Homo sapiens: one gene and its partners. The protein of the gene in region 4 interacts with the protein of the main gene of each other region in a pairwise test. Each region holds a gene or a part of one and is shown on either strand. Other genes may lie near its edges. The genes, in order: CCNL1, LIMS1, KATNBL1 and RAD51D.

What was found.
Region 1: the proteins of RAD51D (region 4) and CCNL1 interact in binary tests that used the Homo sapiens proteins (3 or more experiments, as listed by UniProt).
Region 2: the proteins of RAD51D (region 4) and LIMS1 interact in binary tests that used the Homo sapiens proteins (3 or more experiments, as listed by UniProt).
Region 3: the proteins of RAD51D (region 4) and KATNBL1 interact in binary tests that used the Homo sapiens proteins (3 or more experiments, as listed by UniProt).

Annotation. Positions count from the first base shown.
Region 1 is NC_000003.12:157,147,053-157,150,196, reverse strand, and holds the end of CCNL1 (cyclin-L1), read left to right. Parts: intron 1-27; coding exon 28-132; intron 133-219; coding exon 220-361; intron 362-600; coding exon 601-712; intron 713-811; coding exon 812-910; intron 911-1,607; coding exon 1,608-1,956; 3' UTR 1,957-2,644; downstream 2,645-3,144. UniProt on the Homo sapiens protein: Involved in pre-mRNA splicing. Functions in association with cyclin-dependent kinases (CDKs). Inhibited by the CDK-specific inhibitor CDKN1A/p21. May play a role in the regulation of RNA polymerase II (pol II).
Region 2 is NC_000002.12:108,677,421-108,684,469, forward strand, and holds part of LIMS1 (LIM and senescent cell antigen-like-containing domain protein 1), read left to right. Parts: exon of another isoform or gene 1-71; intron 72-558; coding exon 559-607; intron 608-1,018; exon of another isoform or gene 1,019-1,181; intron 1,182-3,274; coding exon 3,275-3,350; intron 3,351-3,548; coding exon of another isoform or gene 3,549-3,696; exon of another isoform or gene 3,697-3,740; intron 3,741-6,464; coding exon 6,465-6,579; 3' UTR 6,580-7,049. UniProt on the Homo sapiens protein: Within the IPP (ILK-PINCH-PARVIN) complex, binds to F-actin, promoting F-actin bundling, a process required to generate force for actin cytoskeleton reorganization and subsequent dynamic cell adhesion events such as cell spreading and migration.
Region 3 is NC_000015.10:34,140,130-34,144,101, forward strand, and holds the end of KATNBL1 (KATNB1-like protein 1), read right to left. Parts: intron 2,243-3,972; coding exon 2,210-2,242; 3' UTR 545-2,209; downstream 1-544.
Region 4 is NC_000017.11:35,095,848-35,102,896, reverse strand, and holds part of RAD51D (DNA repair protein RAD51 homolog 4), read left to right. Parts: intron 1-1,531; coding exon 1,532-1,696; intron 1,697-1,860; coding exon 1,861-1,944; 3' UTR 1,945-7,049. UniProt on the Homo sapiens protein: Involved in the homologous recombination repair (HRR) pathway of double-stranded DNA breaks arising during DNA replication or induced by DNA-damaging agents. Bind to single-stranded DNA (ssDNA) and has DNA-dependent ATPase activity.

The DNA of each region.
Region 1 (3,144 bases), on a different chromosome or scaffold from region 4:
TTAAAACATTCTGTTCTTATGGTTTAGATTCCGTTGCCAACTCGTCCCCATTGGTTTCTTCTTTTTGGTACTACAGAAGAGGAAATCCAGGAAATCTGCATAGAAACACTTAGGCTTTATACCAGAAAAAAGGTATTCTCTATTTACTCGTTTGTGCCAACATGCTAAGAGTCCAAGCTACTCTAAGGAAGAAATACTAACTTTTTTTTCCTCCAACAGCCAAACTATGAATTACTGGAAAAAGAAGTAGAAAAAAGAAAAGTAGCCTTACAAGAAGCCAAATTAAAAGCAAAGGGATTGAATCCGGATGGAACTCCAGCCCTTTCAACCCTGGGTGGATTTTCTCCAGCCTCCAAGCCATGTAAGATGTATTTAGAATTAAAATGACTTGGGGGCACTGAAAGTGTGTCTTTATTAGAGAGCTTTTACATTTGAAAGTTGCATAGAGAAAAATGATGTTAGGAAACTGCTGCTATGTTCTCTCATGGCAGTCAACCAACATGGAAGCGGAAGCATGGTACTTTGAGTTACATTTAGAAACAACTTTTGGCCCTCTGTTAAATCCAGTAGTTAACATGTTGTTATTATATCTTTTAAAAGCATCACCAAGAGAAGTAAAAGCTGAAGAGAAATCACCAATCTCCATTAATGTGAAGACAGTCAAAAAAGAACCTGAGGATAGACAACAGGCTTCCAAAAGCCCTTACAATGGGTGAGTATACTTGGGCTGGAAAACTGGCTTGAGGAATCTTTTATGTGTTTACTTTTTAACACACTAAGTTTGTAACTAATATGTCATGATTTTTTGAAGTGTAAGAAAAGACAGCAAGAGAAGTAGAAATAGCAGAAGTGCAAGTCGATCGAGGTCAAGAACACGATCACGTTCTAGATCACATACTCCAAGAAGACAGTAAGTAAATGTTTTCTTAGGGAAGCAGTCTTATTTGGAGTTTTTAAAGGTTATTGCTTTTTCTTTAAAAATTGAACATAGATTATTTTCAAAGTTAGGTTAGAATTAGGCTTTTAGTATGAGGCAAATTATGAGAAATGAGTTTGGAGATGTTCTGGACATACAGTATCTTAATGGCATTCTGTTATATTTTCTCCCATGTTTTTTGGAGAAGTGTAGGAGCTACCCACAAAGTGCTTGAGGGCCATAGTATTGTTCATAATGTGAAAACTTCTTTTTTTTTTTTTAATTTCAGTTAGAAAATGTGTTTCATTAACCCCTTATTAATAACCAATAATCAAATTAACCAGTCAATGAATCTTCTTTAGTTAGGCCTGTAATTAGATTGTTAGCTCTTCGTGGCTCTTCAATGTCTTTTGAACATGTGGGAGATACTTAATAAAAAGCATAGCTCTAGGACACTATAAAAATTGCTAATTACTCCCCTTGGAATAAAGACATAAGAACATTTGCTTAAGATTTAATATGTTATATATAGGCTTGGGCATACAGCAGTGAGGGGTGGGGAGATTTTGAAAAGTTCTGGTTTGTCATTTATGTAGCTGGTAGTTTTGTTTTGAACCTGTTATGAGCAACCACCGGAATAATCTGTTCCCCATAGAAACTGAACCTAAACTTCAAATTTTTATTATCTAAGCTATAATAATAGGCGGAGTCGATCTGGAACATACAGCTCGAGATCAAGAAGCAGGTCCCGCAGTCACAGTGAAAGCCCTCGAAGACATCATAATCATGGTTCTCCTCACCTTAAGGCCAAGCATACCAGAGATGATTTAAAAAGTTCAAACAGACATGGTCATAAAAGGAAAAAATCTCGTTCTCGATCTCAGAGCAAGTCTCGGGATCACTCAGATGCAGCCAAGAAACACAGGCATGAAAGGGGACATCATAGGGACAGGCGTGAACGATCTCGCTCCTTTGAGAGGTCCCATAAAAGCAAGCACCATGGTGGCAGTCGCTCAGGACATGGCAGGCACAGGCGCTGACTTTCTCTTCCTTTGAGCCTGCATCAGTTCTTGGTTTTGCCTATCTACAGTGTGATGTATGGACTCAATCAAAAACATTAAACGCAAACTGATTAGGATTTGATTTCTTGAAACCCTCTAGGTCTCTAGAACACTGAGGACAGTTTCTTTTGAAAAGAACTATGTTAATTTTTTTGCACATTAAAATGCCCTAGCAGTATCTAATTAAAAACCATGGTCAGGTTCAATTGTACTTTATTATAGTTGTGTATTGTTTATTGCTATAAGAACTGGAGCGTGAATTCTGTAAAAATGTATCTTATTTTTATACAGATAAAATTGCAGACACTGTTCTATTTAAGTGGTTATTTGTTTAAATGATGGTGAATACTTTCTTAACACTGGTTTGTCTGCATGTGTAAAGATTTTTACAAGGAAATAAAATACAAATCTTGTTTTTTCTAAACTGCTTCAAATACCTTATTTAAATAAATTATTAAAAAGGAAAATTTTAATAGCAAAATGGCTGTACTGGTTTTCTGACAAACTTATTCTTTCCTCCATTAGATGGTAGTTTGAGATTATTAAAATGCAATTCTTAACTGCATTGTGAGCTATTGTAAGTCTTCACTGTATATATGGAAAAAGTAAATGGGAGTCGCCCAACAATGTGACATTAAATGTTATATTTTAGCACTAAACCAAAAAACCTGATTTGCTTTTGAATGGTGTCATAAGGTAATTTTGAGTCAGATTTAAGTACTATTTCTGAAATGAGGTACCCTATTGAATGAACCAAAACTTAGTAACTATTGAGCTTTAACAGTTCTGTATAATTTAGGCATTTAATGTTACGATTTTTACGTAGGCTAGGAGAAAATGTGAGGCCCCTGAACTTGAGTGGTTGATAGAATACAAGCTGATCACAAAGAAGTGAAGTTTTGATGAAAAAGCCGGAATTTCTATCCAGATGAATGTTTTCAAGTTACTCACATTTACTATTTTTTTCAACATTTTGGAAATCAGTTTACAGAGTCAAAATGTTGCATCGCTTTATAATTACACTAAGGTCTCCATTACATTTATTTTACCTACTTTAATTGTCCACTAGACTTGGCTCCAAGTGATTTGTTGCTGTTTCAAGAAATAAAATACACCCACAAAGAGGAAGATGTATTACTGCTAAGGATATTTTTAAAAATAAAGTTA
Region 2 (7,049 bases), on a different chromosome or scaffold from region 4:
CTGCCCTGGTGATCTCCCAGGCATGGTGCTGGCTGATAACATCACTGTGAATTACAATTTCCTTCCCTCCTCTGTAAGAAAGAAGCAATCTGTGGGCAATCATTTTATGACCATGGAAATGTCCTGTTCCTCATCAACCTGCCCTAGATTCAGCACCCCTTGATGATTCTTGTCTCTGCGCCAGCTGCAAACGACACTTCTCCAGCCCCATGCCCTCCACCCATAGTCTGGTCCTCAGCGCTCTGCCTGAGCAAGAACCCACCTCCTCTCCCGTCTATAGGTTTATTCATTTATCTATTTCTTATCCATATGGACTCACAGATTTCTATATTTTGCATCACTTATTTGGGTGTTCAAACTGTCATCTGGAAAGTTTTTCTTTTAATTGATGAGAGTGAATTACTTTCATTGTAAGAAGTAAAAACTTGTCAAAGAACTTTTACTAAATTTCTCTAGTAGTGATAAATCCTCAATTTAGATAGCCAGCTATTTTTAAATGTTCAGTGTTCTAAAAATTCTAACACATCTTGAACTTTGACCACCTTTTTTTATTTTCAGCTATTTGGTGATGTTTGCTTCCACTGCAATCGTGTTATAGAAGGTGATGGTAAGTATCTGTGTGAGTTTTAGATTGGTGCCACTTTGACACAAAAACACTTGGGTAATGTGGAAATTCAGGTTGGTGATTGTATGGTTTGAAATGTGATCGTTATCAGTTACTTTTTCTCTATCTTTGGCGTATTTTCCAAGTAATCTGTAGCAGTAAGATGATAATATCAAAGAGTTGGATTTGTTACTGATTTATGACACTACTTTCGGCCACTGCTGCAGTGTTGTATGCCAGCAATCATGGGAACTGTCCCTGGTGGACCCTAAGACCTGTTTGTGTCCAGTTTCAGGAAGCTCTAGAACAACGTTTATTAGGAACAGTTTAATCTGCTATCGTAGTTAGGAAGAGGCACTTTAACCTGCACATGCTAAAAGCTGGCAGTTATCAGCAAGCATATCTAGGACTTACCACCCTTGTACTGTGGTAATTAGGCTGGGCTGATTGATTGGAACAGAAAGGAAGCAGCTGTGTTTGCTAAGACTCGCTAACACACTTCTGCCAGAGACTTCCTGGCAAAGTTTTGAACAATCCTGTTTTCAGCATGATTCATGGCTCCCTGCAGACATCACCTAATTCAGGAAATACTTTTGAAACACTGTTCATGTGCAGTTTGTGAAAACAATCCAGGAAAACAATCTTTAGTGCCATTGAAAATAAAACTTACCTCCCTCCTCTGTGAAATAGATGCCAGGTGAAAGAAGCTGCAAAGGAAACTGTCTTCTTATCATCAGCTCTGGAAAAAAGACTCCTACAGGGGCAAATAAGTTAATGTCTGGATTTTTGAAAATTATTTACCTAGTTCATATTTCCATGTTGGGCCAACAGCAGTAGGGACAGAAACAGCAAGCTCACCTAAACAACATGGTGCATGGACAGTTGCCACATGTGCCCAGGCCAAGGGGGCACAGTTGCTGGTGTAAGACATGGCACACATCATTTATAACTTCACAGGATACTTAAGGATGGGGGAAGATTAAAGTCAGCCCTCCGTATCCAGGGGCTGGATCCAAACATCCGTGGATTCAACCAACTATGGATCAAAAATATTTAGAGAAAAATAACAATATAACAGTACAAATAGTACAGTATAATGACTATTTACATATCATTTACATTGTACTAGGCATTATAATTAACCTAGAGATGATCTAAAGTATACGAGATAGGACCAGGCTCAGTGGCTCACGCCTGTGATCCCAACACTTTGGGAGGCCAAGGCGGGCAGATCAACTGAGGTCAAGAGTTCAAGAGCAGTCTGGCCAACATGGTGAAACCCCATCTCTACTAAAAATACAAAAACTTAGCTGGGTGTGGTGGTGCATGCCTATGATCCCAGCTACTCGGGAGGCTGAGACAGGAGAATCACCTGAACCCGGGAGGCAGAGGTTGCTGTGAGCCAAGATCACACCATTGCACTCCAGCCTGGGCAACAAGAGCAAAAACTTCGTCTCAAAAAAAATAAATAAATGTATACAAGACAATGTACATAGGTTATATGCATTTTATATCAGGGACTTGAGCGTCTGAGATTTTGGTATCCTCACAGCATCCTAGAAACAGTATCCTGCACATACTGAGCAACAACTGTATACATAAAGGTTGAGGGCCGGGTGTGGTGGCTTATACCTGTAATCCCAGCACTTAAGGAGGCCGAGACAGGAGAATTTCTTGAGGCCAGGAGTTCGATACCAGCCTGGGCAACAGAGCAAGACCTCCATCTCTACAAAATAAAAAATTAGCCAGGTGTGGTAGCACACACCTATGGTCCCAGCTACACAGGAGAACGAGAGGAGAAGATTGCTTGAGCCCAGGAGTTCGAGCTGTGATCGCACCACTGCAATACAGCCTGGACAACAGAGCGAGACCCTGTCTGAAAAACAAAAGAAAAGAAGCTCTCAGGAAAGAGGTTCTTGGCTGGGCATGGTGGCTCATGCCTATAATCTCAGCATTTTGGGAGACCGAGGCAGGTAGATTGCTTGAGCCCAGGAGTTCAAGACCGTCCTGGGAAACATGGCAAGACCGTGTCTCTATAAAAAATACAAAAATTAGACAGGTATAGGCCGGGCGCAGTGGCTCACGCTTGTAATCCCAGCACTCTGGGAGGCCAAGACGGGCGGATCACAAGGTCAAGAGATTGAGACCATCTTGGCCAACATGGTGAAATCCCGTCTCTATTAAATACAAAAATTAGCTGGGCATGGTGGCACGCACCTGTAGTCCCAGCTACTTGGGAAAATGAGGCAGGAGAATCGCTTGAACCCAGGAGGCGGAGGTTGCAGTGAGCCGTGATTGCGCCACTGCACTCCAGCCTGGCAACAGAGCGAGATTCCGTCTCAAAAAAAAAAAAAAAAAAAAAATTAGCCAGGTGTAGTGGCATGCACCTGTAGTCCCAGCTACTCAGGAGGCTGAGGTGGGAGGATCACTTGAGCCTGGGAGGTTGGGGTTACAGTGAGCCAAGATTGTGCCACTGTACTCCAGCCTGGGCTATAGAGCAAGACCCTGTCTCATTTAAAAAAAAAAAAAAAAAAAAAAAAGGTTCTTGAGAACCTCCACCAAGTGCCACAGACACAGTCGTAGTTCTGTTTTGGAGTTGAAATTCTAAGCTGCCCTGCTCCCCATACTGATGTATTTCCATGTGACCAGATCTCTTTCCTCTTTCTCCAGTGGTCTCTGCTCTTAATAAGGCCTGGTGCGTGAACTGCTTTGCCTGTTCTACCTGCAACACTAAATTAACACTCAAGTAAGTGTACGGTTTTGTCCAGTGTGAATCCTAAGACTGAAAACTTTGGGGAGACACTTAAAAAAAATCCTAGAATTTAGAAAAAGAGAATTATTTGATTTCTTATTTCCTCTTTCTGTTCAGGCCTTCTGAAAGTAAAGGTTCTTCCTTTAACTGTTCCCTGTTCTTTCTTCTATTCCTTCTTTGTCCTACTCAAAGGGATAAGTTTGTTGAAATTGACCTAAAGCCAGTCTGCAAACACTGTTATGAGAAAATGCCAGAAGAATTTAAGAGGCGACTTGCCAAACGGGAGAGAGAAGCAAAGGATAAGGACAAGCAGAAAAAGAAAAAGCCAGTCTGTTTGTAAACTTTTCTATCCCTGTGTCATCATTTTCACTGCTTTCTCCTTTGGTTAGTCCTTTGGAATATGTTTTTGTTCTGTTTCTGTCTTTTGCTTTCTTCCCCCCCTGCAACTTTTGGGCATGTATTTGTAGTCATCAGAGATTGAAATACAAGTATTTGTCCTATGTAGAACTGGTCCTTTTGCATAACTGCTAAAATTACAAAAATTAAATGAATACACTCCATACTTAATACAGTTTTGTGGTCATGTATTTCACTTACTCTGTAGACTCACTCACCTCATTTTTTAAACACCATATAGTATACATTTCTTTCTTTTTTTTTTAATGGATTTAAAGGGAAGAATTCTAATCTCTTAATAGACCCTGGAAAACATTTTAAAGGATTTTTGTCTGATTAACTGTAGCTTTTAAAATCCTGGTTTTTGGTTTCCTTGCCACGATCATTTAATTGATAAATTATAAGTGTTGTTTGATATTTTTAAAAATGCATATATTCTAAGTTATGTATTAAATTATTTCAGCATGGCGAGGCATGGTGGCTCACGCCTGTAATCCCAGCACTTTAGGAAGGCAGAGTGGAAGGATTGCCTGAGCCCAGGATTTTGAGACCAGCCTGGACTACATGCCTAGACCCCATCCGTCAAAAAAAAAAAACAAATTAGCCAGGCGTGGTGGCCCATACCTATAGTCCCAGCTACTCAGGAGGCTGAGGCTGCTGCAGTGAGCCATGACTGCCACTGCACTCCAGCTTGGGCGACAGAGTGAGACTCTGTCTCAAAAAAAAAAAAAAATCTTTCAGCATGTTTCGTATCTAAGCAAAGTCCATCTGATTTACGTAAGACATCTTCTTCTGTGATGTTCGAATGTGCATTCATACAATACCCATATGCTACTGTTTATGAATTCATTTCCTCAATGTCTTCAAACTCTTTTTTTATTCCTGATTTTTATGAGAAGTATTTCAATCTTTGAAATTCTTTTGAATTACCAGCATGATTGTTCCAGTTTTCCCTCATAGTTACCATTGTGTTTGGAGCTCTAAAAATATTTTGTTCCAGTTTACATGTTTCCTTCTATAAAGAGGAATTAAATGTAAATGTAAGATTAAAACAATGAGGCCGGGCATGGTGGCTCACGCCTGTGATCCCAGCACTTTGAGATGCCAAGGCAGCAGATCACTTGAGATCAGCCTGGGCAACATGGTGAAGCCCCGTCTCTACTAAAAATACAAAAAAATTAGCCAGGCATGGTGGCGGGTGCCTGTAATCCCAGATACTCGCGAGGCTGAGACAGGAGAATCGCTTGAACCTGAGAGGCGGAGGTTGCAGTGAGCCGAGATCGTGCCACTGCATTCCACCCTGGGCGACAGAGTGAGACTCTGTCTCAAAAAATAAAAAATAAAAAAGATTAAAACTGGAAAGCTTGCTAAGGTAGTCTGTCTGAAAACAGGAATAATTTTTTTCTTTTATCAAAAAAATGGCAGTTTTAATAGCTTTTGCTCTAAGATGACCTTGGGAGAAAAGCCGTAAAGTAATTCCCAGTGTAGTGTTTTAAAATAGAAGATTTTTCATTTTAGATATGTGTTTAGGAATTTCCTTTGTTACTAACATTGTCCTTTAAAATGATCTTGAAGCAAAGTCTAGTTTAATATAATGTTTAAATGCAGTAAAAATATCAGCAGATTTTATAATTTTTGTCATAGATAGCAATATACCACTAGATTTATTTCACAAATGCTACCTGAATATAATTTCACAGACAGTGAACAAGTTACCAAGTTGTATATTTACTCAATTCAAAATTAAACACTCTGGATTTCAACAGTAATAAGCTCCTGTAATTACCTGTTGGAAATGCATTACAGATGATCAGGAGGCTATCTGAAAAGTTGTCTTCTCCAGGACCATTTTAAAAATAAATTGATAATGTGTGTTGCTCTAGCTTTTCAAAAGAATAGTTGAGTTCTTCAAATAGCTACCGCTTACAATGCAACCACAGGTGATCTGGTTACATTTATGTTAAGAGTGATTAAAAACTTTCTTCCAACCTTTCTGTCAGATAACCAAAATAACCCCTTATAATTTAAAATTAATTAAACCTCATGGCTACCTAATTTAAAGTACTAAGTAAGATCATGTTGCCTCCAATAAAGAAATCATTCACATTATAAAAATATGATTCTTTCCTTTAGATAAATTTATCTTTAAGGTATTCTAAAATGTGATTACCATCCTAGGCAATACGACAGGACCCTGTCTCTACAAAAAAAAATTTTTAAGTTAGCCAGGCATAGTAGTATGCACTTGTGTCCCAGCTATTCAGGAGGCTGAGGTGGGAGGATGGCTTGAGTCCAGGAGTTAGAGGCTGCAGGGAGCTGTGATCACCACTGCACTCCAGCCTGAGTGACAGTCGAGGCTCTGTTTCCAAAAAAAAAAAAAAAAAAAAGTGATTGACTGTACTTAAGTTAATTATATTTACATTAGATTTCCTGTTTACTTAGTACTGAATAAAATGTAATCTACAGTCTGTGTTACACAGATGGATGTATAGAACCAATTTATAAGGACTTTTTTTTAAAATTATACTGAATTTTTATATATATATCACAATAAGAATTGAGGTTAGGATTATGGTTTTTTTACTAACATGAATATAATATCATCACCTAGTTGCCTTCGTTTAGTTCAGTACAATTACTGCACATCATTTATATATCTTTGTTGAATATGTTTCCACTAACTTCTTTTTTTTTATAATTTTTTGTCTTTAGGAATAAGTTTGTGGAGTTTGACATGAAGCCAGTCTGTAAGAAGTGCTATGAGAAATTTCCATTGGAGCTGAAGAAAAGACTTAAGAAACTAGCTGAGACCTTAGGAAGGAAATAAGTTCCTTTATTTTTTCTTTTCTATGCAAGATAAGAGATTACCAACATTACTTGTCTTGATCTACCCATATTTAAAGCTATATCTCAAAGCAGTTGAGAGAAGAGGACCTATATGAATGGTTTTATGTCATTTTTTTAATTAAAAAAGAAAAATTCATATAATCGTGTTTAAAACACAAATGAAGTCAGTATTTGCCTTTGTTAACCCTTATCCATTTGTTGACATGTAGACTGTTTACAAAAAAAAAACACATGGTTAAATGTTAAATTTTAATTAAGGCCCCCAAAAATTAAATATAACTTTTTAAAATGAAAGGAGTCACCTTTTACATGACTCAGGTGAAAAAACAGTATAAACATTAATTTACTTTGTGTTCAAAAGAAAATTCCAACTGCTGTTGGGGAAGGACACAGAAAAGAAAAATAACCACCCAAGAAAAACAAAAACAAGAAAAACAAATCTTATACAAT
Region 3 (3,972 bases), on a different chromosome or scaffold from region 4:
TAAGATAAAGTATTATCTACATGCCTTCAAAAAACCTAAATTTAGGTATAAATGTTACCAAGATAATACCTGTTCTTACTATATGTCATTTGTACTTAATTTTTCTGAAGTCTGATTTATTGAAGTTTGATTTTTGAAGATACTGTTTAGTCAATGATCTGACCCAGAGAAAAATGTGAAAAATATCTGATGTAATATTACTTAATACTTTGAAACTAAACATTACACAGTATTTTAGATATCTTATTTTGAATCTATTATTTTAAATGTTAGATTAAAAGTCTACAGTATCACATATACCCATTGAGTAATCTTTCCATTTGAGGCGAAAGGTTTATGCTAAGCTATACATACCATCTTCCTGAATTTCTGAGATGGATACCTGACGGAAGGTGCAATCGACAGCTATAAAAACATTTTGTGTGTATGTAAAGTTAATGAACCTACAAAAGCATCAAACTCCTGTCCACGGCCTCTTTAGCACCATACTCCAACCAAGTTAACTGGTTCAAACTGCTACATAAGACAGTGATAACTACAGGAATAAGCACAAAGAAAGGTTATATTTTATCATGTTAAAAGTTTCACAGAGATAACAGGTTTACAATTCAAATTCCCATGTCCTGAAAACTGGCCTCTTAAATAACTCACCTCTCAAATCACAGACGTGCAATAATCTGAAATTATTATAATCTAAAGACTTAAGGAAATAACCAATTATTACAATTCATGTTCACTGTGAGGAATATCTAGCTATATAAAATATAGCTACACAAAACCAGAACTCAGTGAAACATAACTTTTAAGAGCAAGAAATCTGCTTGAGATTCGTATCAGTAGTCATTAAACGAATAAATGCTAAAGGTTTACATTCAAGTGCTTGAAGGACTACTGCAGAGAAATTCAATTACTAAAAACCTTTGCTCAGATGCCTGTCAGGCATATTAAGGATGGGATGATGTGTGAACCACCAGCAGTGGTATTAAACCCCAATCATTTTCAAGACAAGTAAGATTTAGAGCTGTTAAGACATTCCAGAATTTGGTTCACTGACACTAAAAGTGGTATTTTAAAAAAAGACCTCATACAGTCTGCTAGCATATCATACTAACCATTAGAGGAGGTAGTGACACAAAGTGTTGGAATTTAAAATACAAGATCAGCATTAACTGTAAACCATTCTAAATCACTGTATGTAACTCTTTAAAACATATGTAGTGAAAAAGAATTAGAATTCATATAAAATCAGAATTTAAAAAAGCAAAAAATAGAAATATTTAGTGAATTTACTCAAATGAAGGAAGTTTAAATGATACAGGAATGAAAAATATTAGAAATCTATGTACAATAAAAAGTAAATATAAATTAGCCAAGTCCATGGACATTTCCAGTTAAACATTCATACAAAAACATATTCACCTTTTTCCTTAGATAGGGATAACACATTCATACATGACATGATGATTCTGGCAAAAAATATCAGAGATACTAAAACTATTCTCAAGTTTTAAAAATGGTGCAGAGAGTGTTTCAAGAACACTCTACAAGAATGTAAACCCCTGATTTAATTCCATGATTTTATCATGCCAGAAGCATGGTTGGTTTTAGTTTTTTAAAACAGATATTGGTATCATAACACATTGGCTTATTAATAATTAAGGCATTTTACATACACAGTATCTCAGTGTGAACAAAAAATGTTTAATATTGATTTTTTTCATGTTTTAAACTTTCAGTCTTTTCAACATAAGAAAATAGCTGCACACATTTAAGTGTTTTTTTTTTTTAATAAAACACAATCTTAAAAAAGTTAATGATGATTGGTCTTGGTGGTTCCTAGTGGTAAGTCCTGTCTTATTTTTTCACATAGTATAAATTATATTTTTATGCAGGATTGCATTAAAATCCAGTAGTTCTTAATGTTACCAAATAACCATATAACTCCCAAATGCAGCAAAGGTGAACAATCTTCATAGTGCACTTTCACCTCAATGAAATTGAAGCTGCTCCTTTTGGATATTTTTCCACTTCAATGTGAAGCAGATTGCTGGGATTTCATTAGTGGTTTCATTACGTGGCTTTTTAAAAGAAAAAATAGTTTTGATTTCTTCCACAGTTCACAGTTCTCAGACGAGACTTTTTTTTTTTGTAAATTATACAGTTCAGGGATGTTTTGAAAAACCAAATGCTCTTTAGTAGATGAAATCTCTCAATGTAACTGTAATAAATAAGCATCTACATCCTTAGAAGATAAAACAAAAACATTTCATTAGACAGTACAGTAAATACAAACATAAACAATCCATTTTTTTTTGTTGTTGCTTAATTTGCCTTAGTTTCCTTTTGTGACCTTTTGAGGGTAAAAGACGTGCCTTGTTCAGTGCTTTTATCTGCATTTGTTCAGCACAGGGCCTGGCACATAGTATGTGCTCAATATATATTTGCTAAGTGCTAAATGAATGTGTTGGTTCCTATGCTCAAACAACTCTGCTTTCATAGCTAACATTCACAGAAATTCTATCAGTGCTGTTTACTATCAGTGCTATATTCACTTGAGCCCAGCTTGACAATAGCCTCTTTCAATTTCTTTCTCTTTTTTTTGAGACAGAGTCTTGCTCTGTCACCAGGCTGAAGTGCAGTGGCGTGATCTTGGCTCTCTGCAACCTCCACCTCCAGGGTTCAAGTGATTCTCCAGCCTCAGCCTCCCAAGTAGCTGGGACTACAGGTGTGCACCACCACGCCCGGCTAATTTTTTGTGTTTTAGTAGAGATGGGGTTTCACCATGTTGGCCGGGATGGTCTCGATCTCCTGAGCTCGTGATCTGCCCACCTTGGCCTCCCAAAGTACTGGGATTACAGGCATGAGCCACCTTGCCCGGCCCTCTTCTTTCAATTTCTATACTCAAAAAATTACAAATTAATTGATGGTTTAATTTTGTAAGAAAGTCTCATCATAAGGAACTTCGCATTGAACTTTTAATCACTCAATATTGTCCCCAATAATAAATGGTACCTTAAAGTCATATTCACAATAAAGCTTTTCCCTTTGTAAAAAACTGATTGTGGCCGGGTGTGGTGGCTCCCGCCTGTAATCCCATTACTTTGGGAGGGGGAGGTGGGTGGGTCACTTGAGGTCAGGAGTTCGAAACCAGCCTGGCCAACGTGGTGAAATCCCGTCTCCACTAAAAATACAAAAATTAGCCAGGCATGTGTGTAATCCCAGCTACTCGGGAGGCTGAGGCAGGAGAATCACTTGAACCCAGGAGGCAGAGGTTGCAGTGAGCTGAGCTTGTGCCACTGCACTCCAGCCTGGACGACAGAGCGAGATTCAGTCTCAAAACAAAAACAACAAAAAAAATTCTGATTGAAAGCAAATTTCAGTCATAAGGAACAATCATTTTTTAGTTCTTCTATACAGAATGCAACAACCCTTTAGAGCAAGGTAATACGTCATGTATGCTCTAAAAACCTAAAACAACAACAAAAACTTTCTAGGAGATTGATATGTTCATAAGATTTTCATCATTAAGAATTCTATAGGCCAGGCGCAGTGGCTCACGCCTGTAATCCCAGCACTTTGGGAGGCCAAGGCAGGTGGATCATGAGGTCAAGAGATCAAGACCATCCTGGCTAACATGGTGAAACCCTGTCTCTACTAAAAATACAAAAAAAAAAAAAAAAAAAAAAAAATTGCCAGGCATGGTGGTGGGCGCCTGTAGTCCCAGCTAATCGGGAGGCTGAGGCAGGAGAATGGCGTGAACCTGGGAGGTGGAGCTTGTAGTGAGCCGAGATTGCGCCACCACACTCCAGCCTGGGCGACAGAGCGAGATTCCATCTCAAAAAAAAAAAAAAAAAAAAAAGAATTCTATAGAGTAAAATCCCACACAGTGGTAACAAACTTGGTTGATATATCATTTTGCTTCTTTTTTTTGAAGGTATCTGAGAAATTTTTTTTTTTGGGAGAGGGGCCATG
Region 4 (7,049 bases):
TCCATCCCAATAGTTTGGCCTTTTCCAGAGCTTCATATAAATGGATCTTTTTGCTATTGAAGTAACTTTTTCTGCTTATGAGGTAGTTTTTTTAAAGTCTGCATGCTTCTCATAGAAAGGATAGAAAATAAATATGATTCAAATTTGTCATCAATCTCCACATCCACAGAAACCATATTAATATTTTTACATATCTCCATACAATACTTTTTCTGCATATTTACTTATACTTTTAGCCAACTTTCTTTCTTTCTTTTTTTTTTCTTTTGAGATAGGGTTTCGCTCTGTTTCCCAGGCTGGAGTGCAGGGGCACAATCACAGCTCACTGCAGCTCGACCTTCCAGGCTCAAGCAATCCACCCGCCTCAGCCTCCCAAAGTGTTGGTATTACAGGTGTGAGCCCACACTTAACCAGCTTTCTAACTAAACTAACCTCATGAAAAAATAAAAAAAAATAGGCCAGGTGCGCTGGTTTATGCGTGTAATCCCAGCACTTTGAGAAGCCAAGGCTGGTGGATCACTTGAGCCCAGGAGTTCGAGACTAGCCTGGGCAACATGGCAAAACCCCACCTCTACAAAAAATACAAAAACTAGGTGGCCTTGGTGGCAGGAGAATTGCTTGAGCCTGGGAGATCGAGGCTGCAGTGAGCTGTGATCATGCCACTGCACTCCAGCCTGGGCAACAGAGCAAAACCTCATCTCAAAAACAAACAAACCAAAACAACAACATAAAAAATACCATCTGAGTCCATTTCCTATGTTTTAAAATAGATTTTTTAGAAATGTAATTTTTAGCAGCTATATATTTTTTCCAGTTTCTTTTATTGTGGTAAAATACATGTAACATAAAATTTACTATCTTAACCACTTTAAGGTATACAGTTCGGTGGTGTTAAATACATTCATAACGCTGTACAACCATCACCACCATCCATCTCTATAACTCTTCACCTTGTAAAACTGAAACTCTGTACCCATTAAAAATAACTCATTTTCCCCTTCCCCAGCCCCTGACAACCACCATTCTACTTTCTGTATCTATGCTTTTTGACTACTCTAGGAACCTCATATACATGGAATCATATGGTATTTACTTTTTGTGACTGGAGTATTTCACTTAGCATAATGTCCAGAAGGTTCATCCACCTTGTAGCATGTGTCAGACTTTCCTTCCTTTTAAAGGCTGAGTGTCTGGGCGTGGTGGCCCACACTTGTAATCCCAGCACTTTGGGAGGCTGAGGCTGGCGGACTGCATGAGCTCAAGAGTTTGAGACCAGCCTGGAAAGCATGGTGACATGTGCCCCATCGCCTTCTGGTTCGGGTCAAACCTGAGGCATCGAGATTTAGTGGAAAGAGCGGGGCACAAGTCAGGAGGCCCAGGTTCTAGTTCCAGACCTGCCATTAGGTTTTGTAACCTTGGGGAAGTTATTTCTCTGTGCTAGGCCTCTGTTTTCCTCTCCGTAAAATGAAGCGGTAGTAATCGATGTCCTCTATACTAGCATTATGGATCTGTAAGTCTGTTTCTGCTGCAGGTGACCAACCACATAACTCGAGACAGGGACAGCGGGAGGCTCAAACCTGCCCTCGGACGCTCCTGGAGCTTTGTGCCCAGCACTCGGATTCTCCTGGACACCATCGAGGGAGCAGGAGCATCAGGCGGCCGGCGCATGGCGTGTCTGGCCAAATCTTCCCGACAGGTGAGCCAGCCCCAGGAAGATGCCAGTAATCTTGGGCCCTGGAGGGTGGTTTCCATACCCACAGATGTCTTCGAGAAGAACTCTTTAGAGGCTGAAACCTTGCAACTAAAGAAGCTACCCACTTGGGTTGCTTAACTCCACTGACTCCTTACTTCTTCTTCCAGCCAACAGGTTTCCAGGAGATGGTAGACATTGGGACCTGGGGGACCTCAGAGCAGAGTGCCACATTACAGGGTGATCAGACATGACCTGTGCTGTTGTTTGGGAAACAGGGAAGCATTGGGGACCCCTCCCAACTTTTCTTCCCAGTAACGCCTGCTGTTTACTGCCACCTGGCACTGGTGACTACAGACGTTCTCAGGCTGGCCAGAAGAGACATCTTGGGTTCCTTGGCCTCACTCTCTGTAAGCATATAAACCACAGGCGAAAGAGGATGCTGCATTGCGAGGACCCAGAAATTCATACTGGTGCCACGTTTCCTTCCCTTATTTCTAACGTGTATGTTTCTGGTGGAAACCAAGTTCACCCTGGCTGGGAGCATCTCTGATGAGGCATGCTGGCGACTGGATGGATAATCCTGTGCATCACCATTGTGTCCTGTGCTCCCTCCTAGCGCAGTGGCCAAGCCGGGAAAGCCTCTAACTTGCCTTTGCTGCTGCTGCCTTTTTTTTCTTTTGTCTCTGCCTTTCCATTTGTTAGATGGGGGCCCACTCTTCCTTAGCTCTGTCTCTGAGTTACTGGGTGGAAATAAGCTTATAAATGAAATACTCTTCTTCATCTCTGTTTTGCTCTTAAAAATATAAAAAGGCAATTCCCCGAGCCCTAGAGCCACCTGATTTCCCCTTAGAAGGCTGTTTTTCAGTTTCCCCCAGTGAGGCCCAAAGAACAGTTTATTCCTCCTTTCCTCTTGCTGATTTGGTTTCAGACCTGCCTGCATCACCATGACTAGGTGAGAACGTGTGGGCTCGCTGCAGTTCCAGGGATATAATTTAACAGAAAGGGAGGGTATGACCTGCTCCTGGTGAATCCAGCCACTCATTTAATATGCATGGTGCCCTGTGGGGCCCCTCCACAGTACAGCATAACCAGAGGTGCTGAACCATGGCCTTGCCCATAAACAGACAGAGGAGAATTTGCACAGTAAATAGAGCCAGCTGGGAAAATTGATGCTGACGTAAATAATACATGGCAAATCTAGTCCTTTATGCAGAAATTCATTGCTGGTGGCTCCAAGATGCAATATAATTACACCTCTCTTCCTGCCAGCTGTACCACAGCTAGTGCCCTAGTGTATGAAATAATCCCTCTGTCTTTCACCAGCACTGTGGCCATCCGTCTGAGAGCCATGACCCTGGCTGGGAGGGGACGAAGACACCAGGGAATGGAAAATAAAAGGAAAAGTACAGAAATGATCAGGATTGGTTACTGGCCACATCTTTTAAAGGAAGGTCATCTTTCTTGGTTAGAGAGCCTGTTGTGTAATTAATCAGTTATGTCTTGGCTGCAGGAAAGGAGGGTCCGAGTTACACTCAGAAAGTAATGACATTTAGAGGTGATGAATGCAACAGGGATAGAATCATGGAGGATTGGGAAGGAGTGGCAAACTGGCACCAGGGTGTTGGATTCAGGACAGGGTTGGTAAGCCTAAGCCTGGGGGAATCCTAGCGCTTGCTTTCACAGAAGACCTCAGGAGAAATTAATCTTCAGTATCTTTATACCATGGGTGATTGGCACATTCCTGCAACCACAGTAAGATGCAATACATGAAGCTGGAAATTGCAAATTCTTGCCACTCAAGGTACTATTTGGGCATCTTCAGCCCACAGCAGACATGACCAATCGGGCACAAGCACTCTTTTTTGTGGAAGTCAAAGTGTTTTTAGAAGTTTTTCTCAATATAGCACTCCAGGGGGCCACTACCAGTCAGTTGGAGTTGGTATTCAAGGTGGAGTCTGGTTGCCGTCTCTGCCCTGTTCCCATTATGTAGTGAGTTCAGGTACTTAATACCTAACTGAGGACCCTAGGACTGCAGTTTGAGATCATCTGGGGCCAGGCACAGTGGCTCACACCTATAATGGTAGCACTTTGGGAGCCTGAGGCGGGAGGATCACTTGAGCCCAGGAGTTTAACAGTTTAAAATCAGCCTGGGCAACATGATGAGACATCGTTTCTACAAAAAAATTTTTTAAATTAGCTAGGCATTGTGATGTGCACCTGTGGTCCCTGCTACTTGGGAGCCTGAGGCAGGAGAATCGCTTGAACCTTGGAGGTTGTGGCTGCAGTGAGCCCTGATCGCACCACTACACCCCAGCCTGGGTAACAGAGCAAGACCCTGTCTCAAGGAAAAAAAAAATCATCTGGCCCATCCTGTTACTTAACAGAGAAGGTACCTGAGGCTCAAAAAGGATGACTGACAGTCCTAGTGGCAGAATGGAGGTGGGATCTGGAACCCACAACTTGATTCCTAGGACTCTTTTTTTTTTAATTCCCACATTGGCTGGGTGTGGTGGCTCACGCCTGTAATCCCAGCACTTTGGGAGGCTGAGGTGGGTGGATCACCTAAGGTCAGGAGTTCCAGACCAGCCTGACCAACATGGTGAAACCCCGTCTGTACTAAAAATACAAAAATTAGCCAGGCATGGTGGCCCATTTCCTGTAATCCCAGCTACTCAGGAGGCTGAGGCAGAATCGCTTGAACCTGGGAGGCGGAGGTTGCAGGGAGCTGAGATGGCGCCACTGCACTCCAGCCTGAGCGACAGAGTGAGACTCCGTCTCAAAAAAAAAAAAAAAATGCAAAAATTAGCCAGGCGTCGTGGCGCATGTCTGTAATCCCAGCTCCTCGAGAGGCTGAGTGGGGAGGATCACTTGAGCCCAGGAGGCAGAGGTTGCAATGACCTGCGATCATGCCACTGCACTCCAGCCTGGGCAACAGAGACTCTGTTTCAAAAAGAAAAAAAAAATCCCCACATTTTATTTAATTTTCAGTCCATACAGTTCTATTCCTGCTAGGGCTGTAACTCCAGCTGAAGGCACCACAGCTGTCACCCAAGGAGTTTCTGTGGCCATGGGAAGGTGTTGCATTCACTGCTACTTGAGACCACCACGTGACATTCCTGCAGGCTGTGCCCCTCACAGCCAGCTTCATCCTTTGGCTCCTCCTAGACCAGGACTTTGTCTTGCCTGCCTGCTGCCACTGCACTCTGTTCCGGCCACACCACACTGTGCAGTCCCCTGGTAGGACTTGGGCTAGGCTGGCTCTCCTGTCCAAGTGCCTTTTGCTCCCTTTGCTTATGTGTCTGTCTCTGCCCAGCTCCCACTGTGTCTGGTGCACACCCACCCTGACATCCTTTTTTATGCCTCAGCTGTGATCTAGATAGATGCTTACAGTAACTTCCCTGTATTAGTTATTCACTTGTACTTTCTGTTCACGTGTCTGCCTACAGGCTCCCACTTTTTGTCACTTTTTCTCTTTATACATTATGGAAGCTCAGTAATGATTAAATAGATGAATGATGTTTTAAAAATATATTTTAAAAAAGCAAAGGACTGGCTCTATCTCAGGGGTTCCTTCCATAAAGCGTCAACTTTCAATTTCCCCTGCGGGGGTGGTTTGAGACCTGAGGGCACTCTCTAGTTCTTAGGAAAAAAATATACATATACATATACATATATATATATATATACACACACACACACACACATATACACACATATATATACATATATATACACACATATATATATATACACACATATATATACACACATATATATACACATATGAGCCAGGCGCAGTGGCTCACGCCTGTAATCCCAGCACTTTGGGAGGCCAAAGTGGGCGGATCACAAGGTCAGGAGTTCAAGACCAGCCTGGCCTATATAGTGAAACCCTGTCTCTACTAAAAATACAAAAATTAGCTGGGTGTGATGGCTCGCATCTGTAATCCCAGCTACTTGGGAGGCTGAGGCATGAGAATCGCTTGAACCTGGGAGATGGAGGTTGCAGTGAGCCGAGATTGTGCCACTGTACTCTAGCCTGGGCAACAGAGTGAGACTCCATCTAAAAAATATATATATATGTTCACACCCACATCATTGAGTCCCCAGAGTGTCTTCTTACATATCTTTTTACAGGGGACTATTGTATGCCCTTCGTCTGACATCAGATGAAATTAATGTTGAGATCCTACTATGTGCTAGCACTTGATGGCCTTAATTAAAAATCAGGCATTTGAATTCCCAAGGACTCAGGCAAAGGTCCATGTATCATTAAGGCTGCAAGTAACAAAACCTAGGCTTAAAGAAGTGTAAATACTAGGGACACTTATTTATATTTATTTCTTTTATGTTTCAAGACAGAGTCTTGCTCTGGAGTGCAGTGGCACAATCACGGCTCACTGTACCCTCTACCTCCCAAGCTCAAGTGATCCTCCCACTTCAGTCTCCCAAGTAGCTGGGACTACAGGTGTGTGCCACCACACCCATCTAAGTTTTGTATTTTTTGTAGAGACGGGGTCTCTGTACGTTGCCCAGGCTGGTCTTGAACTCCTGGGCTCAGGTGATCTACCCGCCTTGACCTCCCAAAGTGCTAGGGATTACAGTCATGAGCCACCATGCCTGGCAGGGACACTTATTATCTCTGATAACAGGAAGTCTGAGGTTTGTTAATTTAGTGGCTCATTGTCAAATGGCGTAGAGCCTTTGCATCCTTCTGCTCTGTTCTTTTATGTTGGTTTTGTCTTCAAGCTTGTTCCCCTTATGAAAGCCTGGCTGCAGCCATTTTGAGCATCAATCCAGACGTGACAATATCTACAGGCAGGAGAAGGATCGCCTCCTGTGTGTCCTTTAAAGAACAAGGTGTTAACATGCCAGGAACTGTGGCTCCTGACTGTAATCCCAGTAATTTGGGAAGCCAAAGTAGGAGGATCGCCTGAGGCCAGGAGTTCCAGACCAGCCTGGGCAACATAGCAAGACCCTATCTCTATAAAATAAAATAATAAAAATTAAGAAAACAAGGTGTTAAAAGACAAAATTAAAGCAAATATAGTTTTGCAGATTGTAATTGACTTTTATTTGCAATTCTAGAATTGGGCTGCCCTCAGAACCAGGACAGGTTCAGAGAATTCCAGAGCTGCAACATAGTCTGAAAGCATTTATGGTCAGAAAACAGAAATGAGATACAAAGACAACTAATTGGTTACAGCTCTGCCTTTGCCTTATTTGAAAATGGTTTGAATAGTTGGCTGCCTGGAACCCACTGAAGCTGATGATGTGATTGGCTGAGCCTCAGCAATCTGTTACAAAAGTATACTCCTAAATTAGGTTTTCAGTTAGTTTGCATACTAAGGCTGCA